6 linked regions of the Homo sapiens genome follow. The protein of the gene in region 5 purifies or fractionates together with the protein of the main gene of each other region. This does not show direct contact. Each region holds a gene or a part of one and is shown on either strand. Other genes may lie near its edges.

Region 1 (3,898 bases), on a different chromosome or scaffold from region 5:
TTTCATGTTTATCAGGGTGATGAGTGAAAATACTTCAGTGTTTTAATTTTTCAGTCTTCTTACTTCATCTAGTATGCCCTACATTTGTGTAGGACTTAAAGTAATTTTACAGATAGATGACATATCCGTGTTAAATGAGGTAATTTCTCATATCTTTCAGTTAAATATGAGTTAAATCAGCTTACCAGGTAGCATAACCACTGTCACCCTCAAGGACTTCTCAATACAGAGAAGGAGGGGGTGACACAGAATGTAAAAATTAAAATTATGAATTTAATAGAGACCACAATATAAGGAATTTGGCAATAAAAAAGATAAATGGGTTAGAAGGTATTTTCTAAAGAATTCAAAAAATGTTTTAAGTGATAGAAACATTGTCAAAATAAGTGTATCACCTTCTAAAATGACATTTTGAAAAAGTAAAATTGATAATGTTAATAAATTATAGTATGTCAGACCCTGTCAAACTGTCCTCCATGAGAACACATTAGGCACAGCTATAGAGATAATTCACATATTGGAAAATAGAAGCAAAGAAACTAACTAGAATACAGACCTGGAAAACACAGAGATTGAAAATATGAAAAGGAGATTTAGTAACACAGAGCATAGAGAGAAAAAGCATACCATATAGTTAGCCAGAGTTCCTAAAGAAAATAGTCCCAGTTTCTTCAGGAACTCTGGCTAACTATATGGTACGCTTATACCATATAAGCATATCATATGGTGTAAGGGGGACTATTTGAAGACATAATAGCTGAGAACTTTCCAGAATTGAAGAAAGGCACCAAGCCATGATTTAAGAAGCCCAACAAACCCAAGCAAGAATTCTTTCTAGACATATTGTAGTGAAACTGTGGGACAATAAATATAAAATCTTAAAAGACAGAGGAAAAAGGGGCCGGGTACGGTGGCTCACGCCTGTAATCCCAGCACTTTCGGAGGCTGAGGTGGGTGGATCACCTGAGGTTGGGAGTTCGAGACCAGCCTGACCAACATGGAGAAACCCTGTCTCTACTAAAAATACAAAACTAGCCGAGCGTGGTGGTGCATGCCTGTAATCCCAGCTACTCAGGAGGCTGAGGCAGGAGAATCGCTTGAACTTGGGAGGTAGAGCTTGCGGTGAGCCAAGACCGTACCACTGCACTCCAGCCTGGGCAACAAGAGCAAAACTCCATTTAAAAAAAAAAAAGTAGAGAAAAAAGGCCTCAAAGGAGCAACTATGAGAGTGATAGCCAATTAGTCTTCAACCATAATATAAATATAGAGACAGTGGTAATTATTTCAATATGCTAGGAAAAAACCCTCAGTCTAGATTTATACCCAACAAACATAGGTTCTTTGTCCTTGCCAAGAACAAAGATGAAATAAATACATATTCAGACAAGGAAAGCTGAGTAAGTTTGCCAGCAGACCTCCAATAAAGGAATTCTAAGTTCAGAGAGAAGGAAATTATTTTCAAACGGAAGGTCTGAGAAGCTAGAAGGAATGAAGAACAAAAAGTGTTAAATATGTATGTACATGTTAATCTGATAATGTCTTTTGGGATTAATAGAGATGGAACAAAAATAGAAGACAATAATAGCATATAAATTATGAAGTGAGGCCGGGTGTGGTGGTTTATGCCTGTAATCCCAGCACTTTGGGAGGCCGAGGCGGGCGGATCACTTGAGGTCAGGAGTGTGAGACCAGCCTGGCCAACCTGATGAAACCCTGTCTCTACTAAAAATACAAAAAAATTAGCCTGGTGTGGTGGCATACACCTGTAATCTCAGCTACTTGGGAGGCTGAGGCAGGAAAATCACTTGAACCTGGGAGGCAGAGGTTGCAGTGAGCGGAGATCACATCACTGCACTCCAGCCTGGGTGACAGAGTGAGACTCCATCTCAAAGTAAAATAAAAATAAATGATAAGTGACATTCTAAGTTTTTATGTATTTGGGGGGATAATAATATATGTTAACTTTGGGCTTTAATAGGTATTTAAAATTTTCAAGGAACCAAAAGACAAGAAAGATTATAATTTCCAGACTAGTACAAGAAAAAGTACAGAATGAGAAAAAAATTCCAAAAGAAGGCAAGAAAGGAAAAGAAAAAAAGACAAGATATAATAAATAAAAAGCACAAAGAATAGCTGAAAATAAATCCAAACATTACTAGTTGCAATAACTATAAGGTACTAAATATTCTAATTAAAAGACAAAGAGTAGCTTGGCGCAGTGGCTCACGCCTACAATCCCAACATTTTGGGAAGCCAAGGCAGGTGGATCACTTGAGCCCAGGAGTTTGAGACCACCCTGGGCAACATAAGGAGACCCTGTCTCTACAAAAAGTACAAAAATTAGCTGGTTGTGGTGACGTGTCCCTTTGTCCCAGCTACTCAGGTGGCTGAGGCAGGAGGACCACTTGAGCTCGGAAGGTGGAGGCTGCAGTGAACCAGGATTGTGCCACTGCACTCCAGCCTGGGCAACAGAGACCCTGTCTTGCAAAAAATAAAATAAAATTAAAAAATAAATAAAAGAACAGTACCTCTTAAAATCTTACTCTTAATGGCATTCGTAGACTACATTCAGGCCTGCTATTCAGCTGATACTGGTTCAGCTATACTAGTTGTTAAAATATTGATATGTCCATAGTGGTTGAACAGTTACTGTCCCAAGCCTGTTAAGTGTCATCTTAATGCTTCATCGCCTTCCTTGGGACTTCCTATAGTAACCAATTATATAGCAACTAAAGAGTTAAGAACTAGGACAGCAAGAGACTGTCAGCAAACATCTCACTGGAGAACTACAGGGCAGCAGCCATTCTAATTACTCCTCACCCGTGCCTGGCAACCTCCAACACACAAAAAAATCCATAGGCCCAGTGACCATCTGGCTTCCCTAAGAGTAGGGCTGCCTACCTTTCTCATATCACTCTCACATGGCCCCTTTGGGAACTACAGCCCCGGGAGATCCAGAAAGAAGAGCAGTCAAATGAGAGTAATAGTACTGTACTACCGCAGTTGCCATCAAAATATATTAATTCTCTTGGCACAGTATACATTCCCATGGCAGGATAGAATCTACAGCAGATGATCGAGGCCTGTGGGGATGGTTTATGGATGAATAACTTCTGGGATGCACATCCTTAGTTTTATCATTCTTGTTTAATTTCCCCATTATTTAGATAGGATAAGTGTGCCAACACCCAATGAATACCTGCCTACAGTAGGCATTAATGACACTCATGTTATAAATGAAAATGACTACCAAAATACATCTTTTTCTGTCTACCAGACACATTTAGTTGGGGGAATTAAGAAGCAGAAAGTTTATTAAATGAAGGTTCTGTACCTTGGTGTATGCTGTTAACTGCTGTGTTACGTTACCTCTCACCTGGACTGAGGGATTAGGTTTAATATAATTAAGTATATCAATAAATTATTTTTGTGACTTAGTTATTAATATATTTAAACAAATATTGACTATATGAAACTAACAGCAAGCATTTGAAGGGCTAAAAACATTTTAAAATATACTTACTGTTACTTCAGCAAAAGCCAAAAAGAGGATTCAGCTCCCATGAACAATTCTGTTGATGTTAAGAGTGATTTCTTTTTTTTAGGCCAGGTATGGCAGCTCATGCCTATAATCCTAGCACTTTGGGAGGCTGAAGGTGGAGGATTGCTTGAGCTCGAGTTCAAGACCAGCTGGGGCAACATAGGGAGACCTTGTCTCTACAAAAAATTTTAAAAAGTGTGATTTTTTTTAACGTATCATGACTACAAGTTATTTAATGACTATAAATTTAATGTGGACATTCTTAGAAGGGCTTTATCTAGTTTCCTATGTCAATTCATGGTTCAGACAAGGGCATCTGTGTCAAATAAAAGATTATGGCTACAATTTCCAAAAATT
Region 2 (5,622 bases), on a different chromosome or scaffold from region 5:
GGTTCAAGTGATCTGCCTGCCTTGGCCTCCCAAAGTGCTAGGATTACAGGTTTGAGCCATGCACTGGCTTATTTTTTAATTTTTAGGGATACATAATAGTACATGTGAGAAACATCATTTCTTTTTCTTTTCTCTTTTTTTTTTTTTTGAGATGGTGTCTCGCTCTGTCACCCAGGCTGGAGTGCAGTGGCGCAATCTCGGCTCACTGCAACCTCTGCCCCCTGGGTTCAAACAATTCTCCTGCCTCAGCCTCCCCAGTAGCTGGGATAACAGGCACGTGCCACCATGCCCAGCTAATTTTTGTATTTTTAGTAGAGACGGGGTTTCACCATGTTGGCCAGGGTGGTCTCAAACTCCTGACCTTAAGTGATCCACCCGCCTTGGCCTCCCAAAGTGCTGGAATTACAGGTGTGAGGCAACGCGCCCGGCCGAGAAACATCTTTTTTTTTTTTTTTTTTGAGACAGAGTCTCGCTCTGTCGCCCAGGGTGGAGTGCAGTGATGCGATCTCAGCTCACTGCAAGCTCCGCCTCCTGGTTTCACGCCATTCTCCTGCCTCAGCCTCCCGAGTAGCTGGGACTACAGGTGCCCGCCACCATGCCCAGCTAATTTTTTGTATTTTTTAGTGAGACGGGGTTTCACCGTGTTAGCCAGGATGGTCTCGATCTCCTGACCTTGTGATCTGCCCTCCTCTGCCTCCCAAAGTGCTGAGATTACAGGCGTGAGCCACAGTGCCCGGCCAAGAAACATCATTTCGTAATGTAAGAACCAAACTTGCCTAGTTGGATCTTACATTTAGGCATCCTGCTTGGTAGGTAGTTTTCTCTTACAGGGTTATTAGGTTTTATAAGATTTCATCTAGGCTGTCTTTATGGAATTCAATGATAAAATATTTTGTAATCTTTTCAAATAAAAATTATCAACTAAATTTAAAGTTTTGGTAAATTTTAAAAAGTGTGGCTTGATAAATCAAATTCGTCTCTCAGTATAAAAATAATATAAGGCTGATGAATTTTGAAAATGGAACAAAGGTCAGGCACAGTGGCTCACGCCCGTAATCCCCGCACTTTGGGAGGCCGAGGCGGGTGGATCACCTGAGGTCAGGAGTTCGAGACCAGCCTGACCAACAATGTGAAACTCCGTCTCTACTAAAAATACAAAAGTTGGCTGAGTGCGGTGATTCATGCCTGTAATCCCAGCACTTTGGGAGGCTAAGGCAGGCGGATCACCTGAGGTCAGAAGTTCGAGACCAGCCTGGCCAACATGGTGAAACCCCATCTCAAGTAAATATACAAAAAATTAGCTGGGCTTGGTGGTGTGCACCTGTAATCCCAGCTACTTGGAGACTGAGGCAGGAGAATCACTTGAACCCAGGAGGCAGAGGTTGCAGTGAGCCGAGATCACACCACTGCACTCCAGCCTGGGCCACAGAACGAGACTCCATCTCAAAAACCAAAAATAAACAGTATTTTGGGAGGCCAAGGTGGGTGGATCATCTGAGCTCAGGAGTTTGAGACCAGCCGCACCAATATGGAGAAACCCTGTCTCTACTAAAAATGCAAAATTAGCCAGGTGTGTTGGCCCATACCTGTAATCCCAGCTACTCGGGAGGCTGAGGCGGGAGAATCACTTGAATCCGGGAGGCGGAGGTTGCTGTGAGCCGAGATCGCACCACTGCACTCCAGCCTGGGCCACAAGAGCAAAACTCCGTCTCAAAACAAAACCAAATGAAACAAAAATTAGCTGGGCATGGTGGTGGGCACCTGTAATCCCAGCTACTTGGGAGGCTGAGGCAGGAGAATCACTTGAACCCGAGAGGTAGAAGTTGCAGTGAGCCGAGATCACACCACTGCACTCCAGCCTGGGCAACAGAGCAAGACTCCATCTCAAAAAAACAAAGGAATAAATTTGTTTTTCTTCTACTATAGTATAATTACCCTATCTGCACTTTTGTTCATATTTAGATATAAATGATGATCATGTTGAAGATGTTACAGGAATTCAGCATTTGACAAGCGATTCAGACAGTGAAGTTTACTGTGATTCTATGGAACAATTTGGACAAGAAGAGGTAAAAATGACATTTTCTGATTGGTGTATTTTCAAAGTGGTGTATTAGAATTCAATGCGTAACTTCTGTTAGTAGCAAATATACATGCTATTTTTCATTTTGAAAAGATACTCCTAAAATGTTTAAACATTTGTATTTTAAACTATTTTTTATGAATTCAAAAATAGGTAAAATTCTGGAAAAGTCAAAGAAAAATTAATAATATTAACTACTCCATTATAACTAATAATATACATATATTTATAAATATTCTAGGAGACGTGGGATGGGGATGCAGAGAAAACACTTTTTATGCTAGTCCCAATGTTTGAAACATTTATTAATGTTCAGGAAAATTGAATGATCTTCTTTGTTGTTTTTTTTGTTTTTTAGAGATGGGGTCTCTGTCTGTCACCCAGGCTGGAGTGCAGTGGCGCAATCTCGGGTCACTGCAACCTCCGCCTCCTAGGTTCAAGCAATTCTCCTGCCTCAGCCTCCCAAGTAGCTGGGATTACAGGCATGTGCCACCACACCTGGCTAATTTTTGTATTTTCAGTAGAGACAGAGTTTCACCATGTTGGCCAGGTTGGTTTCAAACTCCTGACCTCAAGTGATCTGCCCACCTCAGCCTCTCAAAGTGCTGGGATTATGGACGTGAGGCATTGTGCCCAACCTAAAAATGGGTTCTTGATATGTTGCCTAGGCTGGTCTCAAACTCTTGGCCTCAATCAGTGCTCCCACCTCAGCCTCCCAAAATGCCGGGATTACAGGTGTGAGCCACCAAGGCTGGCCTGAATAATTTTCAAACAAATAAGTCTGTTCTCCACATTGACTGTAATTCACTGGATTGAAATTTTTAGTGGAAATAATTTTTAAATTTCAGTTAATTAAGATCCAGTATTGGGAGAGAAAACTTGAAAAACAAATTATAGGACATCCATGAATCCTTTTTCTCAACTTTTTCTGATAATGATGATAGCAGTATTTTAATTTTTAATTTTTTAATTTTTAATTTTAATGGGCACATAGGTATATATATTCATGGGTTAGACTGGGCTCAGTGGCTCACACCTGTAATCCCAGGAGGCTGAGGCAGGAACTTCGCTTGAAACCAGGAGTTTGAGACCAGCCTGGGCAAGAAGGCGAGACCCCCATCTCCACTTTATTTTTGTAAAATATAAAAAATATAATAAATATATATTTATGGGGTATATGAGATATTTTGGTGCAGGCATATGATGTGTAATAATCACATCAGGGTAAATGGAGTATCCATTATTTCAGACAGTCATCATTTCTTTGTGTTCCAAACATTCCAATTGTACTCCCTCAGTTATTCTAAAATGTACAACAAAGTATTGCCGACTATAGCCACTCTGCTGTGCTATCAGGTACTAGATCTTATTCATTGTATCTCTATCTCCATGAGTTTAATTGTTTTAATTTTTAGCTCTCACAAATAAGTGAGACCATTTGAAGTTTTTCTTTCTATGCCTGGCTTATTTCACTAAACATAATATCTTCCAATTCCATCCATATTGCAAATGACAGGATCTCATTCTTTTTTATGGTAGAATAGTACTCTGTCGTGTATATGTACCACATTTTCTTTATCCATTCGTCTGTTCATGGACACTTAGGTTGCTTCCAAATCTTGGCTATTGTGAATAGTGCTGCAATAAACATGGGAGTGCTGATATCTCTTCAATATATTGATTTCCTTTCTTTTGGGTATACAGCCAGCAGTGGAATTGCTGGTCATATGGTAACTCTATTTTTGGTACTTTTTTTTTTTTCTGAGGCGGAGTTTCCCTCTTGTTGCCCAGGCTAGAGTGCAATGGGATGATCTTGGCTCACTGCAACCTCCGCCTCCTGGGTTCAAGTGATTCTCCTGCTTCAGCCTCCCGAGTAGCTGGGATTACAGACATGCGCCACCATGCCCCGCTAATTTTGTACTTTCAGTAGAGACGGGGTTTCTCCATGTTGGTCAGGCTGGTCTCGAACTCCTGACCTCAGGTAATCTGCCTGCCTTGGCCTCCCAAAGTGCTGGGATTTCAGGCGTGAGCCACCACGCCCGGCTTGTTTGTTTGTTTTTTAAGAAACTTCCATACTGTTCTCCCCAGTGGCTGTACTAATTTTACATTCTCACCGACAATGTACAGGGGCTTCCTTTTCTTCACATCCTTGCCAGCATTTGTTATTGCTTGTCTTTGGGATAAAAGCCATTTTAACTGGGGCGAGGTAATATCTCATTGTAGTTTTGATTTGCATTTCGCTGATGATCAGTGATGTTGAGCACCTTTTCATATACCTGTTGGCCATTTGTAGGTCTTTTGAGAAATGTCTATTCAGATCTTTTGCCCAGTTTTAATCAGGTTATTAGATTTTTTTCCTATTGAGTTGTTTACGCTCCTTATGTATTCTACTTATTAATCTGACAAAGGTGGTTTTGACAGCTATATTTCTGTTTGGCCTCTTTATATCCTCTCCCCATTCTGTTTCCTACCTACCTACCCTGTTCTAATACAGTTCAGTGTGTCTTATAGAAAATCATTTATCTTTTGCCTCCCTGAAATGATTTTAACTTTTTGTGTTTTTCTCCTTTTCTCATTTCATAATGCAATTAAATCTACCCCTTTTCTCAAATTTTAAAAACACATGAATAAAATATCTTTTACTTAAGGTCAAACACAAATGGAGTGGCGTAGGCTGGTCATGGTGGCTGACACCTATAATCCCAACACTGTGGGAGGCCGAGGCAGGTGGATCACTTGAGCTCACAAGTTTCAGAGCCGCGTGAGCAACATGGCAAAACCCCGTCTCTACAAAAAAATAAAAAACTTAGCCAGGCATGGTAGCTACTCAGGGAGGATGGCTTGAGCCTGGGAGGCAGTGGTTGCAATGAGCCAAGATCGCACCACTGCACTCCAGCCTGGGCTATAAAGCCAGAACTTGTCTCAAAAAAAAAAAAAAAAAGCAGCATAAATTGGAAGAATAATGATAAGGAGGCCAAACTGAGAATGAGTGAAATTAGTGAAAAATGAAAAGGATGAAAAACTCAGATTCCCTTTTATTTTTTTCTTTTTAAAAAAGAGATATTTGGGGAAGGTTGATGAAAGGGACCAGATAGAGATTAATCTCAGTAAATATCCAGCTGCTACATTCTAGTTTTGTTCCTGTTTTCTCTCTCAATCAGTTGATGGACTAAAGCTCAAGGGGCTGTCTGACCTGGCTTCTGGAGTGCAGTGGCACAATCTGGGCTCACTGCAACCTCCACCTCCTGGGTTCAAGTGATTCTTGTGCCTCAGCCTTCCAAGTAGCTGGGACTACAGGCATGTGCCGCCCTGACTGGCTAATTTTTGTATTTTTAGTAAAGACGGGGTCTCGTCATGTTGGCCAGGCTGGTCCCATACTCCTAGCCTCAAGTGATCTGCCTACCCTGGCCTCCCAAACTGCTGGGATTACAGGTGTGAGCCACCATGCCGGCCCCTTGCTGGCCTCTGTTAACACCACTCTCCTATTTGGTCGTTGCTCACCACCCACCCTGGCCTTCTCTCTGTTTCTCTAATGTGTC
Region 3 (4,697 bases), on a different chromosome or scaffold from region 5:
TGCCTTTAGCTGGCTGTATTTCTGTCAGCCACTCAGTCTGCTGCTTTTCACTGACCCTGCAGCATCTCCATTGCATACTCACCCTTGATGTCTAGGAAGTGGGCTCATTTTGTAGGCAATACTTGCCCTGGCACCTTTCTGCTTGTCCAGGTTTATCTTATGCCATGTCCTGAACGTAATCCAGCCTCTGCTTATATCACAGTTTAATTACACTAGTGTGTGGCTTTTGCATTTGGTTTCCCCAGTTTTTCCATACTAAACATAGTCCCGTAATGAACATATTTGTGTGTATGTCCCAGAGTGTACGTTTTTTTAAAGGCCCTGTCTGATCCTTTCCTTAGCAGTATTTGAAATGTACAACCTATTTTGAAAACTAACTGATGTTTAGACTTGTTAGCTTTTTTGCTCTGATTTAGATAGTAAAACAGTCATACTTCTTACTCATAGTTCTAAACCATGCTTAATTTTTCCATCACTAACACTTGCAAAAGGTTCCATGGTGGGTGAAATGGACACTTAGGAGGCCTAGATCTTCCACTTGTTAGATTTTTAAATTAATTGTACTTTAATTTCGTCACCTGTCACATGAAGAGATTAGATTCAGTAATTCCTTAGGACCCTAGGACCTTTCCAGCTCTGACATTCTGTGGCTCTGCCTTATTTAACTCCTTCAGAGTCAAAATTACATTTTCATGAGATAATAATAATCTTTGTTAAAATTCATATAAGTTCCTTCTTTATGAAAAAAAAAAGAACCTTCCAAATGATAATTTTGAAGGTGGAAAAATCATACATTCTTTTTCTTCTAAAATTATGAGAATAATAAAATACTATGTAGGCCTTAAAAATTGGAAAAAACCCCAATCTTCCTACCAGAAGTTACTGTTATGAATTTTATGGTTTATTTCTTTTTACTATCCAGTTAAAGTATTATTGAAAATGTAGGTAGCTGAAAAGGTTCCCCAAGTAAATAGAAAGAATCTGAAAGTATGAGTTGGGTTAAACATGTAATCTTTTCTTTCCTTTTGTCTTTTTTTTTTTTTTTTTTTTTTTCCAAGACAGAGGAGTCTCGCTTTGTTGCCCAGGCTGGAGTGTAGTGGCATGATCTCGGCTCACTGCAGCCTCTGCCTCCTGGGTTCAAGGGATTCCCCAACCTCAGCCTCCCGAGTAGCTGGGACTACAGCCGCATGCTACCATGCCCGGCTAATTTTTGTATGTTTTGGTAGAGACAGGGCTTTGCCATGTTGGTCAGGCTGGGTCTCAAACTCCCGGCTTCAAGTGATCTGCTCACCTCGGCCTCCCAAACTGTTGGACTGTGCCTTGCCATAATCTTTTCTTTGTTATATGATTCCTTTAGTAATTGAGCATAGATTCTTTGTCTTTTCTAGTGTTTGGTATGATAATTTTGATCTTCAGGTAGGTGGTAGACATCATGTCTGTGTATCATTGTTAGTAGACAAGTACGTACTTTAATAAAAATGCATCTGTTTTTAATTAACAGAGAATTCTTGAATTGGAAAGTTCTTTGGAAAAAAGCTTACAAGAAAACAAAAATCAGTCAAAAGATTTGGCTGTTCATCTGGAAGCTGAAAAAAATAAGCACAATAAGGAGATTACAGTCATGGTTGAAAAACACAAGACAGAATTGGAAAGCCTTAAGCATCAGCAGGATGCCCTTTGGACTGAAAAACTCCAAGTCTTAAAGCAACAATATCAGACTGAAATGGAAAAACTTAGGGAAAAGTGTGAACAAGAAAAAGAAACATTGTTGAAAGACAAAGAGATTATCTTCCAGGCCCACATAGAAGAAATGAATGAAAAGACTTTAGAAAAGCTTGATGTGAAGCAAACAGAACTAGAATCATTATCTTCTGAACTGTCAGAAGTATTAAAAGCCCGTCACAAACTAGAAGAGGAACTTTCTGTTCTGAAAGATCAAACAGATAAAATGAAGCAGGAATTAGAGGCCAAGATGGATGAACAGAAAAATCATCACCAGCAGCAAGTTGACAGTATCATTAAAGAACACGAGGTATCTATCCAGAGGACTGAGAAGGCATTAAAAGATCAAATTAATCAACTTGAGCTTCTCTTGAAGGAAAGGGACAAGCATTTGAAAGAGCATCAGGCTCATGTAGAAAATTTAGAGGCAGATATTAAAAGGTCTGAAGGGGAACTCCAGCAGGCATCTGCTAAGCTGGACGTTTTTCAGTCTTACCAGAGTGCCACACATGAGCAGACAAAAGCATATGAGGAACAGTTGGCCCAATTGCAGCAGAAGTTGTTGGATTTGGAAACAGAAAGAATTCTTCTTACCAAACAGGTTGCTGAAGTTGAAGCACAAAAGAAAGATGTTTGTACTGAGTTAGATGCTCACAAAATCCAGGTGCAGGACTTAATGCAGCAACTTGAAAAACAAAATAGTGAAATGGAGCAAAAAGTAAAATCTTTAACCCAAGTCTATGAGTCCAAACTTGAAGATGGTAACAAAGAACAGGAACAGACAAAGCAAATCTTGGTGGAAAAGGAAAATATGATTTTACAAATGAGAGAAGGACAGAAGAAAGAAATTGAGATACTCACACAGAAATTGTCAGCCAAGGAGGACAGTATTCATATTTTGAATGAGGAATATGAAACCAAATTTAAAAACCAAGAAAAAAAGATGGAAAAAGTTAAGCAGAAAGCAAAGGAGATGCAAGAAACGTTAAAGAAAAAATTACTGGATCAGGAAGCCAAACTTAAGAAAGAGCTTGAAAATACTGCTCTAGAGCTTAGTCAGAAAGAAAAACAGTTTAATGCCAAAATGCTGGAAATGGCACAGGCTAACTCAGCTGGAATCAGTGATGCAGTGTCAAGACTGGAAACAAACCAAAAAGAACAAATAGAAAGTCTTACTGAGGTTCATCGACGAGAACTCAATGATGTCATATCAATCTGGGAAAAGAAACTTAATCAGCAAGCTGAAGAACTTCAGGAAATACATGAAATCCAATTACAGGAAAAAGAACAAGAGGTAGCAGAACTGAAACAAAAGATCCTCCTATTTGGGTGTGAAAAAGAAGAGATGAACAAGGAAATAACATGGCTGAAGGAAGAAGGTGTTAAGCAGGATACAACATTAAATGAATTACAGGAACAGTTAAAGCAGAAGTCTGCCCATGTGAATTCTCTTGCACAAGATGAAACTAAACTGAAAGCTCATCTTGAAAAGCTAGAGGTTGACTTGAATAAGTCTCTGAAGGAAAATACTTTTCTTCAAGAGCAGCTAGTTGAACTGAAGATGCTGGCAGAAGAAGATAAGCGGAAGGTTTCTGAGTTGACTAGCAAGTTGAAAACCACAGATGAAGAATTCCAGAGTTTGAAATCTTCACATGAAAAAAGTAACAAAAGCCTAGAGGACAAGAGCTTGGAATTTAAAAAACTGTCTGAGGAACTAGCGATTCAGCTAGATATTTGCTGTAAGAAAACCGAAGCCTTATTAGAAGCTAAAACAAATGAGCTAATCAACATTAGTAGTAGTAAAACTAATGCCATTCTTTCTAGGATTTCTCATTGTCAGCACCGTACAACTAAAGTTAAGGAGGCACTGTTAATTAAAACTTGCACAGTTTCTGAATTAGAAGCACAACTTAGACAGTTGACAGAGGAGCAAAATACACTAAATATTTCTTTTCAACAGGCTACTCATCAGTTAGAAGAAAAAGAAAATCAAATTAAGAGCATGAAGGCTGATATTGAAAGTCTTGTAACAGAAAAAGAAGCCTTACAGAAGGAAGGAGGCAATCAGCAACAGGCTGCTTCTGAAAAGGAGTCTTGTATAACACAGTTGAAGAAAGAGTTATCTGAAAACATCAATGCTGTCACATTGATGAAAGAAGAGCTTAAAGAAAAAAAAGTTGAGATTAGCAGTCTTAGTAAACAACTAACTGATTTGAATGTTCAGCTTCAAAATAGCATCAGCCTATCCGAAAAAGAAGCAGCCATTTCATCACTAAGAAAGCAGTATGATGAAGAAAAATGTGAATTGCTGGATCAGGTGCAAGATTTATCTTTTAAAGTTGACACTCTGAGTAAAGAGAAAATTTCTGCTCTTGAGCAGGTAGATGACTGGTCCAATAAATTCTCAGAATGGAAGAAGAAAGCACAGTCAAGATTTACACAGCATCAAAACACTGTTAAAGAATTGCAGATCCAGCTTGAGTTAAAATCAAAGGAAGCTTATGAAAAGGATGAGCAGATAAATTTATTGAAGGAAGAGCTTGATCAGCAAAATAAAAGATTTGATTGTTTAAAGGGTGAAATGGAAGACGACAAGAGCAAGATGGAGAAAAAGGAGTCTAATTTAGAAACAGAGTTAAAGTCTCAAACAGCAAGAATTATGGAATTAGAGGACCATATTACCCAGAAAACTATTGAAATAGAGTCCTTAAATGAAGTTCTTAAAAATTACAATCAACAAAAGGATATTGAACACAAAGAATTGGTTCAGAAACTTCAACATTTTCAAGAGTTAGGAGAAGAAAAGGACAACAGGGTTAAAGAAGCTGAAGAAAAAATCTTAACACTTGAAAACCAAGTTTATTCCATGAAAGCTGAACTTGAAACTAAGAAGAAAGAATTAGAACATGTGAATTTAAGTGTGAAAAGCAAAGAGGAGGAGTTAAAGGCATTGGAAGATAGGCTTGAGTCAGAAA
Region 4 (5,622 bases), on a different chromosome or scaffold from region 5:
TATAATCTATTTTTTAAAAATTTTCCTCATTATGCCCTAGAACATCATTATACTCTAAAAAGTCAAATTCCATTTCCTTTAGATTTCCTTAATGTTGCTTGTGGACTGATGTAGTGATATTTTACATTGGAGCCCACCAATGATTTGAACAATGAGTGGTTCAACCCTAGTCTAAATTGTGCTTGAAACAGCACCTCTAGCCACTGAGAGATAACACTCAAAGGCACCAATAACAGTTATATTCTAGTCTACAGGTGCAAAAAGGAGGCCTTGTAGATTCTAACTATAGATACTGGCTACTTATGCCTCATAATTCCAATACATACATCCACTGTATTTTAGCCAGATTCAGGACCTTACACACAATTCTGTGCCTTAATTCTATACGCAATTTTAGGAACCATCCCAACTGCAAAGGCACTCAAATTTTTATATATTTGGGATGTAATAAATTATTATGCTTTTTTTTTTTTTGAGACGGAGTCTTACTCTGTCACCCAGGCTGGAGTGCAGTGGCATGATATTGGCTCACCACAACCTCCACCTCCCAGGTTCAAGCGATTCTCCTGCCTCAGCCTCCTGAGTAGCTGGGATTACAGGTGCCCGCCACCACACCCAGCTAATTTTTGTATATTTAGTAGAGACAGGGTTTCACCATTTGGGCCAGGCTGGTCTTGAACTCCTGACCTTGTGATCCACCCACCTCGGCCTCCCAAAGTGCTGGGATTACAGGCGTGAGCCACCGCGCCCGGCCTATTATGCTTTTAAGACTCAGAAGTATCTGGCCACTACTGATGTTTACAAAGTAGGAAATTTAGCCTGTAGTTCCAGCTACTCCAGAGGCTGAGGGGGTAAGATCACATAAGCCCAAGAGGCTGCAGTGAGGTATGATTGTGCCACTGCACTCCAGCTTGGGCGACAGAGTGAAACTCTGTCTCTACAAAAAGAAAAAAAGTAGGAAGTTTAATTTTTTTTTTCCCCAGAGTCTCACTCCGTTGTCCAGGCTGGAGTGCAGTGGCACGATCTTAGCTCACTGCAACCTCCACTTCCTGGGTTCAAGTGATTCTCGTGCCTCAGCCTCCCGAGTAGCTGGGACTATAGGCGTGCAAAAAAGCCACCATGCCCAGCTAGTTTTTGTATTTTTAGTAGAGACGGGGTTTCACCACGTTGGCCAGGGTGGTCTCGAACTCCTGATCTCAAGTGATCTGCCCGCCTCGGCCTCCCAGAATGCTGGGATTACAGGCAAGAGCCACTACGCCCACCCTTGCTTTTACATATTTTGGATGCTTCAACTATTAAGAAGTTATTCTGAGTAAAGAAGGGATTTACTGTTTTCTGTACACTTTTAGCCATTTCTGAAAATAATTTGTAAAGACAAAAACCTAGCATTAGCCTGTAAAGAAATATGCACTTTTGTCTTATAAAACAGAAACTTGAAGCCAAACTTCTTAAATAGGCTTTCCCTTAACTACACTAGATAAAAGACCTGGAAACGGTCAACATATCTAGCAATTTCCAAACTACCACAGGCCATCTCGTTTTCTGAACTTTGTCTTAGACATTAACATTCGAAAAAGGAAAAAAAAAAAAAAAACTTTTAAAAGAATTCTCTATTTTGTCTGAAATAAACTTAGTCTGTGAAAATTTATCTTACGCCTATAAAAATTCCTTAAGCCAATTAAGTCAGCATTAACCCAGCATTTAATATGGTTTTCAGTGATTCTAAATATCTATTTAGATATTTATTTGAGTCAGCGTCTCGCTCTGTTTCCCAGGTGCCACCACACCCAGCTAATTTAAAAAAAAAAAATTTTTTTTTTTGGTAGAGACCGAGTCTCACTATGTTGCCCAGGCTAGTCTTGAACTTCTGGGCTCAAGCAATCCTCCTGCTTCAGCTTCCCAAAGTGCTGGGATTACAAGCATGAGCCACTGCATCCAGACCTAAATGCCTACTTTCTTTTAACTCAGTTTTCATTCACATGAAGGAACTCCAAAAAAAATTCAAGTCTGATTATTGTGATAATGGTATAAAATGTTTGTCAAAAAATGTCATCAGTGAACTAACAAACCAGCTCCTTTCTAAATTAAAATGCTTCTGAATAATCACTATAATTTTAATATTCCATTTTAAATCTCTGTTGAAAACACTGGCCATCTATGAAAAAAAATGTAGTTATCTGGGATTGTAGATTGACCTTATTCACAAAATAAAATTTTAAATGAAAATTAAGTTTCTTGGTGACTTGCTATCTCTCAAGTGCTATTACTGATATAAGTGATTCTTTACTATACTGTATCAGATACCTTAAGGAAAGGTAATTGCCTAAAAAATAATCTGTCAAAAATATGTGCTGTTATGCACTGCGAGTAGAATCATTACATTTAATCATTTAAAGAGTTTAATTATTTTCTTTCATTTTTGGCAGTGAGATGGGGACACTTTCTCTAACATGAACACATTAAGAAGATACACATATTTTGAACAAGAGATTTTAACTTTTTATGGCAAAATTTACTGGTGTCAATTGTATTTTAATTGAGAGGTTAACACCATGTTGCTGTCTCTATTCCACTGAACAAAAATGACTTTGAAATAGAGGAAAAGAATAGCCAGTTTTAACTGGCGATAATTTTTTAAAATCACATTTTCACAACACTACAACATATGGAGATGTAGACAGTTAGTCTTTAACACAGAGTGCTGTAGTATTTTATACTGTGGTGCTTGGGGAAATATTCCTAGTGAATAACCGGCAGTCTGTGCAGGAACCAGCAGTCCACACTTCTAGGTATAAATATGGAGGACAAGCTTCTGCTCACCGCCTCAAGAGAGGTGGACTCCCGAAGGGTAGCCTGTCTCATTTTAAAACCTATACCATGAAACCAATTCCCAGTTCCTACACTCTGTTCTACCTTCATAATTTTTCTTTCTCATATATCTTTCCGCCAGCCATCCAGGCTCCTGCCAGTGATTAGCTTCCACAAGATGATCCACATTTCCCTTCTTTCACACTAAGAAGGACATCTTATAAAATATACACAGATAGAGAAGAAAGGCATTTTATACAGAAGCAGTATAAAATTTACAACTGAAGCAGTGTCAGAAATCAGGTCAACAGCTTATGTGAAGCTGCAAATTGATTGGAAGGGACTCTGAGATCAGAAAAGTCTGGCCTAAGGGTTCGTGCAAACTTTACCATAAAACTGTAGAATCTCAAGCACAAGTAAGTTCAAACACTGAAAGATGTGGAAAATTTCCTAAAAGGCAATGATAAAGGAAGAGACCCTTCTTGACTCATAAGTTTAAAATCACAAGACAAATTAGAGACTGTTCACATGGGCAGTACTACACATTATCAATCCCAAACTGATTTTATGACTCTTGTCATAGAAACCCCCAAAACATCAGGGAGGGTAAGATATTCCAAATGGACCAATCACAAAAAGGATTCCTGTGATTCAACTATCCAATACTTATGGCTATCAATTTAGTCTGGCTTGGGGCTGTTTTTTACAGGGAGGTGGCCTCCCATGGCGCACAATGTGTTTTTCTAAGCTATCCAGAATGGCCACAGCAATCTGTTGGACATGGGGATCAGTATGTTCATGATCTTTGATGTTGTATAAATGCTGCAATCCTCCTTCTTCAATCAGCATGCTGCAATACCTTGAAGCTGAAAAAGAAAAAAAAACACACACAAAACAGGAGAAATAGCTTTTCTTAAAACACTTGAAAATTATTCCACAAAAAAATGACTTCTAGGAGCCATTTTTTTTTAGCTGTTTTGTTATTGATCACTAACATGCTACAGCTTGATAAATAACCTCTATACTGATGTTACGTCTACAGTGCAAGGCCTACACATTCAATCAATAAATAGCTAGCTTGATTTTTCTAACCTCAAGACATGTACAACCTGTATTAAAAAAATAAAAACAATCATAACTACCTTATCTTTGACCCAAAATCACAGGTAAGTGTTGTTATATTTTTATGCATTTCCTATGCTTTTTTTTTTTTTTTAGACAGAGTCTTGCCCTGTTGCCCAGGCCAGAGTACAGTGGCGCAATCTCGACTCACTGCAGCCTCCGCCTCCTGGGTTCAAGCGATTCTTGTGCCTCAGCCTGGAAATACAGGCACATGCCACCACCCCTGGCTAATTTTTTTATTTTTAGTAGAGATGGGGTTTTACCATGTTGCCTAGGCTGGTCTCAAACTCCTGCCCTCAAGCAATCCTCCCGCCTCAGCCTCCCAAAGTACTAGAATTACAGGCATGAGCCATAATGCCAGGCTGCATTTACTATGCTTTTTAAAAACTTAATGGCACTCATACTGCACATACAATTTTTAAATTTTTGAAATATTTTATTAGCCTTTTTTTTTTTTTTTTTTTTTTTAAAGACAGTCTCATTCTGTTGCCCAGGCTGGGGTGATCATGGCTCATGCCCAGTGGTGTGATCATGGCTCACTGCAGCTTGCTGTGTTGCCCAGGCTGGAGTCCAATGGCACAATTTTGGCTCACTGCAACCTCTGCCTCCCGGGTTCAAGCAATTCTCCTTCCTCAGTCTCCTGGGTAGCTGGGACTATAGGCACCAGCCACCACACCTGGCTAAATTTTTGTATTTTTGGTAGAGGTGGGGTTTTACCACGCTGGCCAGTCCAGTCTCAAACTCCTGACCTTAAGTGATCTGCCTGCCTCAGCCTCCCAAAGTGCTGGGGTTACAGGTGTGAGCCACCACACCCAGCCACATTAAAACATTTTAATACAAATAGAAGTGAATTCCATTTAAATATAAACAAAATAAGCCCACAAGGTAGGAACCTAAACTATCTGAGTTGGAGACAAAATATTCTAATATTCCCCAAATTACAGTGCATTTTAGAATAAATTATTCAGGGGCTGGGCGTGGTGGCTCACACCTGTAATCCCAGCAGTTTGGGAGGCCGAGGCGAGCAGATAACGAGGTCAGGAGATCGAGACCATCCTGGCTAACGTGGTGAAACCCCGTCTCTACTAAAAATACAAAAAAATTAGCCAGGCGTGGTGGCAGGCGCCTATAGTCCCAGCTACTTGGAAGGCTGAGGCAGGAGAATGGCGTGAAGTGGGAGGCGGAGCTTGCAGTGAGCCGAGATCATGCCACTGCACTCTAGCCTGGACGACAGCAAGACTCCGTCTCAAAAAAAAAATAAAATAAAATAAAATAAATTATTCAGGGCTGTCATTCCATAGAGTAAAACCTAAATAACTCTAATACCTAAAAGTAGTGACAAAAATAAATACTCATATGAAAATGCACTATTATTATTATTATTATTATTTTTTTTTCAGACAGAGTCTCACTCTGTCGCCCAGGCTGAAGTGCAGTGGTGCGATCTCGGCTCACTGTAACCTCCACCTCCCAGTTCAAGTGATTTTCCTGCCTCAGCCTCCCTAGTAGCTGAGAGTACAGATGTGTGCCACAACCCACAGCTAATTTTTTGTATTTTTAGTAGAGATGGGGTTTCACCATGTTAGCCAGGATGGTCTCGATCTCCTGACTTCGTGATCCACCCGCCTTGGCCTCCGAAAGTGCTGGGAATACAGGCGTGAGCCACCATGCCCAGCCAAAAATGCACTATTA
Region 5 (5,622 bases):
CTTCCCCCCGAAGCCCTCGTCCTGCCCACCACTGAAGTCTGTGTGTCTCTTTCTCTACCGCAGCCACGGAGGATGCAAAGGAAGAGGGTCTGGAAGCCCAGATCAGCCGCTTGGCAGAGCTGATTGGGAGGCTGGAGAGCAAAGTAAGCCCTGGCCTGACCACGGCGTCTACTCCTTCCAACCCCTGAGGGAGTGCAGAGTTAAGCCTGGAGTTCAGGACAAAAGTCTGGGCTGCAGAGGGGCCAGGGAACCATGAAAAAGACATCCCCCAGGTGGGGCGTGGAGCTGCCGAGGACGAAGCTAAGGATCAAACCCCGGGGGATGCTCGTGTTGTTCAGGCCCAAGGAGGGGCGCCTGGGAAGAGAGAGTGTTGGGGGGTCAGGCGGGCCTGCAGGCAGCAGGAGCAGCTCCAGGAGCAGAGGGTGGTCAGCAGGGTCCCGTGTTGCAAGGCCCTAGCTTCAAGGAGACTTTGCTCTGAAGTGGCTGGAGCAGATATTGGCCGAAAGGCAGCACCAGGATGAAAGAGAGACGTGATGATTCGAGAGAGTTTCAAAACAAGGAAGGAAGTGACCAGCAGTAGCAAATGTATTAAGTGTGATATGGGACGTCCACAGGTGATAGAAAATGGCACAGCCCTTACAGAAAACATTTTCAGATAATGTTTCGTGACTCGGGATAGAGTGCTCACAATATGACCATTTGGTGGAAAGAAAAGTTTGTCTTAGGGCCTACAGACAGATGGGCTCAGGTATCAGTCAGAATTCTGGTTGTGCCACTTCATAGCTGTGTGACCCTGGGCCAGGGACTTGTCCTCTCTGAGGCTTAGATTCCTCCTCTGATAATCAAGAAAATAACCTGGAGCATGGGACCCCTCCCTCATAGGGGTGTCGTTAGGATGAACCAAAATGATGTCTCCGGTTTAGCACAGGGCCCGGTGCTGTAGCTTGCATTTAATATTAGCAATGTTAGCAATTATTATGAGGCATTCTGTTACCCAAACCTATCCACATGCACACAGCACACCCGTATACCCACATAAGCCAAGGTAACTGAGCTCTCAGAACCCTGGGATTGAGGTGGTTTTATGTTTCTCCTACTTTTGTGTATTTTTTTTACACCCTTTGTAAAGGGTATTGCTACTTTTAGTTTGGGGGTTCTCAGGCATTCATGGGGGCAGGAACAAGGGGCTCCCCGCATGGAGGGAGACAGAGGCTGACGTGGAATGAAGTCCGAGGGAGGAAGCTCAAACTTCCCCTCCTGCAGGGATGAGGCTGAGGTGGAGTTACCCCCTTCCTGAAGCCAGCTGCGGGAGCGGCTCGGAGGGGACCCCGTGGCCCGGTTGTCATAACAACTCAGCGGGCGCCTCGGGAGGGAGACTCTGAAGCTTATTTTTAGAGCACCGTCGCCCTAACAACCAGGCTGGCTGGTAACCACGGAGTACCTGGGCGTCCTGGAGACGGGGTGGGACCAGGTCCTCCTCCCCAGCCTCTAACTGGCCCGGGCGGTCAGCAGGGGCCAATCCGGGCCTGGCTTCAGGCCCCGCCCTTCACCGGCCAACCGGAGCTGCCTCTGGGCTGGAAGGATGGAGGCTCTAGGGGCCCCTGGCTGGGAGAAGAATGGGGCAGATACAGGGGCCACAGTGCCTCTCCTCATCCTCCTATGGCTTTTCCAGCCCCAGGACCCCTCACGTATGCTTGTAAAACCATGGAAACAGACTTGTTCCTGCCAGGCACACCTTCACCACTTACCAAGGCGTGTTCATGCTGTGTGCCCCCAGAAGGCAGTACCCTTGCCAGGATCAGCTACTACAGAGCCCAGTGCAAAATGAGCGTGCAAGGTCCCTTGCTCAAACATTTAGAACGTCACGGTGGTGACTACACAGACTCATCCACCTGCTGCTGTTTTCCTTATTAGCTGGCGTGCTTTACCTGTGGCTGCCCTGTGTGACTCCCGTAGATGGTCTGTCCTCATGGAGGATGGACAGAGATAGCCACAGAGGTGGTTAGTGGGGTGCCCAAGCTGAAGGAAGCAGCAGCATGAGCCTGTGCGTCAGGTAGACACACTGGGTTCAGACCCACGCTCTGACACTTACATGGCTTTCGTGCCTTCAGAGCCGGGGTTCTCTGCCGTGACATAGTGACTGTTGATCTTCTGTGGGGGCTCAGCCCTGTGTGGGCACCAGTCGTGGGCGAACAGAGCAGATGTGGTTCCTGGAGACCGAAACTTACAGTGGGGCAGCACCTTCCCTGGGGAGTCTGGAAGATTGTGTATTTGTAAACCATCTAGCTTAGAGTCTGGGGAAGACCAGAGAGAACAGTTCACCCCATTAGATCCCTGAGGTGCTGGGGGTTATGATTTGGGGTGAATTATAAGTTACAGGGAATCTAAGGGCTGTTGCTCATCATAGTGGCAAACCCCAGCATCTTGGACTCAGGCCTCTGGAGTCCCCCTTGCTGCCTCTCCCAAGCCATCCTCACCCCAGCAACATGTTCTAGGCCCCCTGTAGGCCAGAGGGAGTCTCTGCCACTTCCTAGCGTTGGTCTCCCAGCCCTGTGCAACAGGGCCGGGTCCTTGGGAGCTCCCAACAGCCCCAGGGATCCCAGAGCTCCTGGCTCCCCGGGGCGGAGTGGGGCTCTGGGTCTAGCATCACTGTGTGCTGGATTGTTTCAGGCACTGTGGTTCGACCTGCAGCAGCGCCTGTCAGATGAAGATGGCACCAACATGGTGAGGCCCCTTCCCACCTCTCTTCTGGGACCACATCCCTACCCATGCCAGGACTGCCAAGATCCAAGTGGCTCAATGCCCCTGACCCCGCTCTCCCTGCTTGGGACCACCAGGAGGGGAGATGTCGCCCAGCGCTTGGCACCCAGACCCTGCCCTGGCACAGGAGCCACCCCACCAACTCCGGGGGTATTTCTTGAGGCTCCCTGGACCTTTTTTTTTTTTTTTTTTTTTTTTTTGAGATGGAGTCTTGCTGTATCTCCCAGGCTGGAGTGCAGTGGTGGGATGTCGGCTTACTGCAACCTCTGCCTCCTGGGTTCAAGCAATTCTCCTGCCTCAGCCTCCTGAGTAGCTGGGATTACAGGTGTGTGCCACCACGCCTGGCTAATTTTTTTGGTATTTTTAGTAGAGACGGACAGGGTTTCACCATGTTGGTCAGGCTGGTCTCAAACTCCTATCCTCATGATCTGCCCACCTTGGCCTCCTAAAGTGCTGAGATTACAGGCGTGAGCCACCACACCTGGCCCAGAGGCTCCTGGACTTTGATCCAAAAAAGGTTTGGCATAGAGCAAAGTGATCAGCCAGACAGTGATGTGAAAATGCTGAGTCCATCAACTATGAGTTTTTCTTGTCAGTGGATGTGCTGTGTCTCCAGGCCCTGGAGGCTGTGCAGGTGGTTGTGGACATGGATGGGGCCTCTGTAAACAACCTCGTCTGTTTTCCCCATTTTTGGGGGCTACTTCTGCACTGGGCTCTTGAGGTTCTAGTCCTTTCTTAGCCCATTTTTAGTCCATTCTTATCCATTCATGGGTAAGAATGAAAAGTGGGGGAGGGTTATTTTATTTTGACCGAGGAAGGGAGGTCATGGGGGCCTGATGGGGTGTTTAGGGAGAAGGCCTGACGTGGAGCCCCACACTGACTCCTGCTGTGCCCGGCAGCACCTGCAGCTGGTCCGGCAGGAGATGGCCGTGTGCCCCGAGCAACTGAGCGAGTTTCTGGACTCTCTGCGCCAGTATCTGCGGGGGACCACTGGCGTGAGGAACTGCTTCCAGTGAGTGAGCTGCCGAGGCGTGGGTGGGATGGTGGCAGGGAGCTCTGCCTGGCAGTGGAGGAACAGGGCAGGACTAGGCTTTGCCCTAAGTAGTACAAGTTGCACCCCAGGGACACACACAGCTGGATGCGTAAGAAGTGGGTTCAGGTCTCTACTGAGGTTCCTCCCAGCCAAGCAAATGTGGCAGGTGTCTTCATCTCCCTGGCATCAGCTTACTCATCTGTAAAGGGGGGACCACCCCCAGGACTCCTTGCTGGGGTGATCATGAGTGCATATACAATCAAGTGTGTGAATCTCAAGTGTGAAGGGCTCCAGCTGGGCCTGGTGTGCCCCGTGCGCTCAGTCAGCCTCAGCTGCTGCTGTCACAGGGGTTCCTGCACACTTAAGTCCAGGCCCAGAATGTAGTATTTGCTCAGTTAACCACTGAGGAAGGAGAGGAGAGTCGGTAGCTGAAGGGAAATGCCCAAGTCATGTAGTTGCCCTTCTCCCCCTGATGTGCTGAGATGTCCAGGGCGGGGCAAGCGGCCTTACCTTCAAATTCCTGTTCATCCCACCAGGCTGATGTAGCTCCTTGGTAAAGCTAAGGCATGTGGCCAGGGCCAGAGTGGAGGGGGTTGCAGAAGACAACAGCCCTTTGTTCTTGCTGGTAGTGGTCCCCCGCCCCCCGTTTCTGCAGCAAGGCTCTGCCCAACTCCCTTCCCAGGGCTTTCTTCCATCCCCAGAGCACACACTCATTCACCCCATTGCCTGGGGACATGGCTGTGAACCAGGCAGGCCAGGTCCTAGCACAGGGTCTTTGAGAGGGGTCTTCTTGGGCCCCCTGTGCACTGAGGCTTGAGTGACAACAGCCTGACCTGTAGCACGAGGGGAGGAGTAGCCTGGGCAGGAGTGCGGCCGTTCCCGAGACTCGGCGTGGCCACGAGGGGCCATTCTTGAGTAAGTAGCCAGGATGGGGGGGCAGGACCCACTCCACTCCAGGAGGACAGACTGCACAGGAGCAGGGGCCAGACTTGATCTTTTTCCATTACGTGAATAAGTGGGAGGCTCCAGGGTGAAGTAGGGCCACCCCGATGCGCTGTGGAGAGGAGGCACGGTGGACGTAGAGGCTCTGGTTTGTCGAGTTGGAGACGGCAAGCCTGGAGAGCCAGGTGAGATTCTACTTCCCAGGCATGGTGCACCTAAAGCTGCACGGAGGTGTGTCCACCCCAAGATGGAATCCAGCCCGGCCCCTTCCTCTAGGCTGAGCACTGTAGCCCCTCCTCCCCAGCTTTTGGCCCCCGCTTTATGGTCACTTGGGGCTTCCTCATTGTAGTGCACTTGCAGAGAGGATTCTGGGGCGGCATAGACTATCAGCACCTTTAAAATGACGTGAGTGCGGGCCCCTGGGTCCCATAGAGCAATGGGGGACTTGCCTGCAGCCCCTTCCTCTGTGGCCCAGCACCCCCTCCCCTCAGCCTCCTTTGGTCAGGTCAGGTACAGTGCAGTGGGGGTGTTGCAAGGATTAAATGAGAGGACAAGTAGAAGGAAGAAGAGGGAAGATGCTTTGATTTTTAAAGGTTTTTTGATTTTTAAAGGTTTTTTGAGACCAAATCTTGCTTTATTGTCCAGGCAGGAGTGAGTGTGTAGTAGTGGAAGCTCAGCTCACTGCAACCTCTCACCAGAGGGTTTAAATGAGTCTCATGCCTCAGTGTCCTGCATCGCTGGGATTACAGGGATGTGCCACCAGGCCCAGCAAGTTTTATTTTTTTTTTTTTTAAAGAGACAGTGTTTTGCCATGTTGGCTAGGCTGGTCTTGAACTCCTGACCTCACGTAATCCACCTGCCTCGACCCCTCAAGACTTCCCAAAGTT
Region 6 (5,622 bases), on a different chromosome or scaffold from region 5:
TTATTCAATAACATGTACTGCCATAACCCATCCCCCATTTTCAAAATAAGGAAACATATATTTCATTCATATATATGTGTGTGTGTGTGTGTGTGTATATATATATATATATATACCATTTACCATATATGTAAAAGGCAAAAATAATGGAAATATATATACATACATACGCAAAAGAGAGAGATTTGATTTGTTTGGCACTAAAATTTACCGTGTTTCCTTTGTTTTGAGCTGCTTTACTCTGTGGTGTGGCTAAACAATAAACATTATGGGATTATTTTACTGTGGTTTCCAGTGAGTTGTAGTATGTTGGAAGTACAGGCTCTGGCTTCAAATTGCCTGGGTTTGAATCTCAGCTTTGTGGCTTACTACTTGTGTGACCTTAGGCAAGTTACTTAAATTTATGTACCTTAGTTTCACTATTTTCAAATTGGGGGATGGGTTATAGCAGTACATGGCATGGAGTGAATATGATGAATAAATTGCACAAGTTAGAAAAAAAGCAATAGGTGCAGAAGGAAAACCACCATGGCACACATAGACATATGTAACAAACCTGCACATTCTGCACATGTATCCCATTTTTTTTAGAAGACATAAAGAGAAAAATAAATTAAAAAAATAAAGTATCTGACCCATAGTGAACAGAGTGCAAACTATCAATCCTACCCAGGCCTTTGGATGTCGAGTTTTCTGCGTTTCCTATGTTATTACATTTAATGTTCAACTGCCCTATGGATTGTGTCTTATCTTTATTTTATGACTTTAATGATAAAACATAATACTAACATAGATTAAATAACTTGTCCAATGTCCCACAGTACAAACAAAGGTGACAAAGCCGGTATTTAAATCTAGGATCATCTGATTTCCAAACTTTTATGATACTGACCTACAGCTTACAAACATATATCAATTTTTTTGAATTCTACTAATTTTGAGTCAGCATCCCTTCCTCTGCAAAGGAATGTGCAAATATCTACTTTTCTCATATATTCAAGAATATTTTAAAATAAACATGCAAATGCTTGAAGATAATCAGAAATCAAAATAATACGTAATTGCTATCTCAAATATCTCCTTTTTTAGTCAGACTGTAGAAGAAGTGTAAAAGAAAGACTTAGATGCAAAATATATATTTTCTGTATATATTATTCTATTGGTCTTGCAAATATATCAGATTCAAGAAAAATTCTCTAATGATTAGTTGTTCACAATAATGCTGGTTCAGGCCATGGGTTTTAAAATTTTGAGTATAAATGTTCTGAGGAAAATGAAAACTTGTAATCACAGTGATAATAGTGAGCACTTTAATAATGCAACCTTCTTACATTCATTATATTTTACAGAAGAATAATCAAAAATATTTTTTGAAAAACAATTTGTCTAAATGCATAGTAATGTAGAATTATTCAAAGACATAGAAGTAAATAATACACTATTATATCATTTGTTTAAAAATAAATAAAATGAAAAATCAACATGTAAATTAATTTATAAAGTTATCGTTATTGTTGCAGTCTTGTTAAAATTATAATAAACTTTGCATTTCCTATCAAGAACAGCCTTTGAATTCGGGAAGTATATCGTAGGATACTCTCCTCACATTCATTTCTTGTAATTTGTGATACTTAGAACTATGCATATTTAATGTAAGGTAATATCAACCTTGACTCTTAAAGCTTAAATTTGTCTTTCTCAAATTGAAATTTCTACCTTTTCAACAAGATAATACAGACAAATAACTGCATAAACATTGAGTAAGGCAAGCCTATTTCAACCGTCTCTCCTTAGCATTATTTGGAAGTTTCAGGTAGAGAATTTCTAAGACTGATGGGTCCAGATGATTGGCTCTTAGGTATGCTCTTCTTTCATGACTATGTCGATCTTGCCAGGATTAACTTTCATGTAAATTAGTGTTTTTCAACTGGAAGTGACTTTGACATACAGGCGACATTTGCTAATATCTGAGGACGTATTTGTTTATCAGAGCTGGGAGGGGATGGCATTGTCGTCTAGTGAACAGAAGCCAGGGGTGCTGCTAAACAACCAACAGTGCACAGACAACATCCGCCCACAACAAAAGATTATCCACTCCAAAATGTCAATAGTGCTCAGGTTGAGAAACCCTTATCTAAATGATGCTAGGAAACAGAGTTTCCTATATTTACTTGATTTGTTTGTATGCTTTCTGATGAATTTATGTACGTTACATAAGAATTTAATGGAAAGCAGAATCTCCAAAATGCTTTGCAATCAATGCATGAGGTTTGAATAACCAATTCACTTGTTTTTTTTTGTGGGGAGACCTCATTATTTGTTTATTAAGTTTGGGCTTTGGAGCCAAATATAGTTGGATTCATGTCCTGGTTCTGCCATTTATTGTAGGTTTGATACTTTGGAGAAGATTCTTGACCTCTAAACTTCGATTTCTAGAGGTAGTAACATAGGTAGTAATTATACCTACCTTACAGGGTTATTGTGAGTCTTACATTAAATAATTATTATACATTATTTAACAGAAAGAAGGCACTTTATAAATATTATGTATTAATAAGTAAGTGGAGATCATGTTATAGAAATGTAAAACCACGGTCTCAAGCATTTAATGATATGTAATGTAATATATAAATAATGATTTACAGTCTTCAGAGGTATACCCTTAATAACAAGAAATCAGCTGAAGGCTACAGGATGTGTAAAAGTCTAAAATCCCTGCTTTATAATTAAACTGAGACTAGTTAACAGTGGATTGCATCATGTTTATTGCTTTGCTGCAGAAGGCTGTTCCAGGTCTTCATAGACTGCTAAACCACTTGTTTAAATGATTTACAATGATTTAGTGAGCTCTATTGAACTGCCAGAACTTTTTAATTAATGGATAAAATTACAGATTTCATCTTTGTACAATAGTGTTTTATGGCCCTTTTTTTGTTGAGGGGGTTTCAGTTAAAATATGGCCTATATTTTGTGGGGCTAAACAGTGGGGATGCTGCATTTTCTTGTTTACAGGGTCACAAATGTGTGATTGAGATAGTAATGACAATGGAGCTTTCCTCAGACTACAGGGTTCTCTGTATCATTGCACCTCAGGCTGTCTCTTATCTGTGGTATGCACTTGTTTTCAGAAAAATATATCAGATGCATTGATGGCATATGCAATATTGACAGCCCTGACTGTTTGTGATGAGGCCACTGATCAGGCAGAAGAAATCATTTTAGTGTTTATGTCCTGAGCTGTGTGATTTGCTTGTGTGGAGATTAAGTTATATAAGAGACATCTGTGCCAGAAAGATGGTCAGTATTTTAGAAGATTGTTGAAAATAAAGGACAATGTGAGCTGTGAATCTGATTATATAGTGTAGATTGCAATTTATGGCAAAGTTTATCCATCAATATCTCTTTTTCATATCATTTAGGATATAATATGAGAGTGTGTGGTTACCTGATGTGAAATACTTTTGTATGTATTTAAAATATGTCTATTGTTTTCTATAATGTGCTAGTAATTAATTTACTCTGCTAAGGACCCACAAATATAACACTGAGTAAAGCATACTTCTGAAAATAGGTACTTGAACTAATATACTATATAATCAAACTATTAATACATTTACCCACTTTTTAGTGAATTAAATGTCACCATATTATTAGACTGTAGATCATAACATTTTAAAAGCTTTTTTATCATTACAAGAATTAATGCCTCCCCATTATCTACAGGATAAACCTGCCCCTTTATTTCTACTGACATATTATCCCCACCATCTAAAAGCTATAACCTAAAGAAAATAATTTATTTTACTTGAGAATTTGTTTCCTACTATAAGAAATTGGTGTTCTTAGACATTTCTAGAAGTATTATTTTTAGGTAGATGTGAGATCAAGAATGAAAAAAGGCTCTTTACGCTGAAAATAAAGTATTGTGGTATTTTTCTTCATCTTTTCTTTTACTAGACACTTGTTAAAATAATGAATGAATCTTGTGGTGACGTTGCACAGGAGAAATCTCACCACAAGGAGAAATGGCCTTACTCAGGAACTTATATAGAAGCAAGAGAGAGTAGATCCTCACAGAAAGAATATTGGATAGTTCTCAGAATTGATGATGTTAATGAGACAGATCTTGGAGTGAAGTTGATATCATCTTTTATATTCTACATTCATCAGTTGTAAACCAGGAGAAACATTTATGCCAGAAATATCATCTTTAAATAATTGTGCTACAAAGATACTTTCAAAAGCAAGCAAAATGCAACATTGTTTATGATATTAAGACAAATCTATAAATAACCTTAATATCTAACAATAAGGAATAATTAAATATTGGTACACACATATAATTGAATGCCATGCAACTGATAAAATTAAATAAATGTTCTAAATGTGACTCTTGGCTCTGGTACTACCCACTTGCTTGGGAATCTGGGCCAAGCCTCTGTATCTCTCTGAGCCTCAGTTCTTTTCTCTGTAAAATGTGCATACATAACTTATTTTACAGTTTGTATGACAACTAAATGTCATTTCATGTGAGATACTTAGCAAAGTGAACAACACATGATATGCCCTCTGTATATTTTAATTGTTGTTATAATTGTCCCCATCATCCAAATGAACTTATATGAAAGATATTTATATTATACAAAGAAAATAAAAATATATTATGAGAGAGATTTCATATTAAAATTTTATTTAAATAAAAAATAAAATATTATAAGCTTTGAAAATTATATAAGAGCTGATACCAAGTTGTAAACTATGATTAAAATTGTGTTTTGAGTGACATTTTGTTGAATTCAAGTCCCAGGTCTGCTATGAATCATTTGCTTTCCATGGATCTCAGTTAAATGGAATCATCTCCAGGGCCCTCTCTAGTTTTGTGATGCTATTTTCCTTAAACATCCTACAATATTAGCTTGGTAATGAATACTATAAGAAAGTATAAATAAATTGCCATGTGAGCTTGGAGGATAGAGCAAACACTGCCAGGTGAGGGATATGGTAATAATTTAGGAAGGGACTATTTTTAAATATTAGCTTATTCAATACTCACTAAAACTCTTTGGGGTAGGTACTGCTGTCACTCCAATTGCCAATAAAGGCATGAGGCTCAGAGAGGCTAAATGCCTAAGGACACACCGCCAATAAATGGCTGTGCCAGGATTCCAATTCAGGTCATTGGACTCCAAGCCCATGCTCTTAACAACTCTGCTATGAAGACAATTGGAACAACTGCATATCAGGGATCAGAAGCAGCATGTGCAAAGCCATTGGAATAAAACAGTGTATACTTGGACAAGAGCCTAACTTGACTAATAGGCTCCCAAGGAGGAATGGATGGAAGGAGATAAGGTCTCAAGGGAGAAAGTTGCAGAAATTTAGAAAGCATATCCCTCAGTTCCAAATTAAAAATACTAATGATTAGCAAATATGTTGTATTACTATATTTATAAATTTAGAAAACACAGATGAAGAAAATAAAATTAAAAGTACTATATTTTTACTACCCAGAGAACACTCTATTAATGTCAATGTATATGTTTCCAGTCTTTATGTATGCATACATGCCCACCCATAATATTTCTTGAGAAAATCAAAGCATACCGTCCCTTTATTTCTGCA

The links.
Region 1: the proteins of NECAB2 (region 5) and DCAF10 purify together in Homo sapiens (affinity purification with mass spectrometry; 2 studies listed by BioGRID and IntAct, with this or other methods). This does not show direct contact.
Region 2: the proteins of NECAB2 (region 5) and ACBD5 purify together in Homo sapiens (affinity purification with mass spectrometry; 2 studies listed by BioGRID and IntAct, with this or other methods). This does not show direct contact.
Region 3: the proteins of NECAB2 (region 5) and GOLGA4 purify together in Homo sapiens (affinity purification with mass spectrometry; one large-scale study listed by BioGRID and IntAct). This does not show direct contact.
Region 4: the proteins of NECAB2 (region 5) and ZYG11B purify together in Homo sapiens (affinity purification with mass spectrometry; 2 studies listed by BioGRID and IntAct, with this or other methods). This does not show direct contact.
Region 6: the proteins of NECAB2 (region 5) and GRM5 purify together in Homo sapiens (co-immunoprecipitation; one study listed by IntAct). This does not show direct contact.

What each region holds. Positions count from the first base shown.
Region 1 is NC_000009.12:37,803,596-37,807,493, forward strand, and holds part of DCAF10 (DDB1- and CUL4-associated factor 10), read left to right. Parts: intron 1-3,898. UniProt on the Homo sapiens protein: May function as a substrate receptor for CUL4-DDB1 E3 ubiquitin-protein ligase complex.
Region 2 is NC_000010.11:27,211,982-27,217,603, reverse strand, and holds part of ACBD5 (acyl-CoA-binding domain-containing protein 5), read left to right. Parts: intron 1-1,962; coding exon 1,963-2,069; intron 2,070-5,622. UniProt on the Homo sapiens protein: Acyl-CoA binding protein which acts as the peroxisome receptor for pexophagy but is dispensable for aggrephagy and nonselective autophagy. Binds medium- and long-chain acyl-CoA esters.
Region 3 is NC_000003.12:37,322,087-37,326,783, forward strand, and holds part of GOLGA4 (golgin subfamily A member 4), read left to right. Parts: intron 1-1,501; coding exon 1,502-4,697. UniProt on the Homo sapiens protein: Involved in vesicular trafficking at the Golgi apparatus level. May play a role in delivery of transport vesicles containing GPI-linked proteins from the trans-Golgi network through its interaction with MACF1. Involved in endosome-to-Golgi trafficking.
Region 4 is NC_000001.11:52,819,491-52,825,112, reverse strand, and holds part of ZYG11B (protein zyg-11 homolog B), read right to left. Parts: intron 3,675-5,622; coding exon 3,484-3,674; 3' UTR 1-3,483. UniProt on the Homo sapiens protein: Serves as substrate adapter subunit in the E3 ubiquitin ligase complex ZYG11B-CUL2-Elongin BC. Acts to target substrates bearing N-terminal degrons for proteasomal degradation with the first four residues of substrates being the key recognition elements.
Region 5 is NC_000016.10:83,994,546-84,000,167, forward strand, and holds part of NECAB2 (N-terminal EF-hand calcium-binding protein 2), read left to right. Parts: intron 1-63; coding exon 64-143; intron 144-2,670; coding exon 2,671-2,724; intron 2,725-3,659; coding exon 3,660-3,772; intron 3,773-5,622. UniProt on the Homo sapiens protein: May act as a signaling scaffold protein that senses intracellular calcium.
Region 6 is NC_000011.10:89,054,760-89,060,381, reverse strand, and holds part of GRM5 (metabotropic glutamate receptor 5 isoform a precursor), read left to right. Parts: intron 1-5,622. UniProt on the Homo sapiens protein: G-protein coupled receptor for glutamate. Ligand binding causes a conformation change that triggers signaling via guanine nucleotide-binding proteins (G proteins) and modulates the activity of down-stream effectors.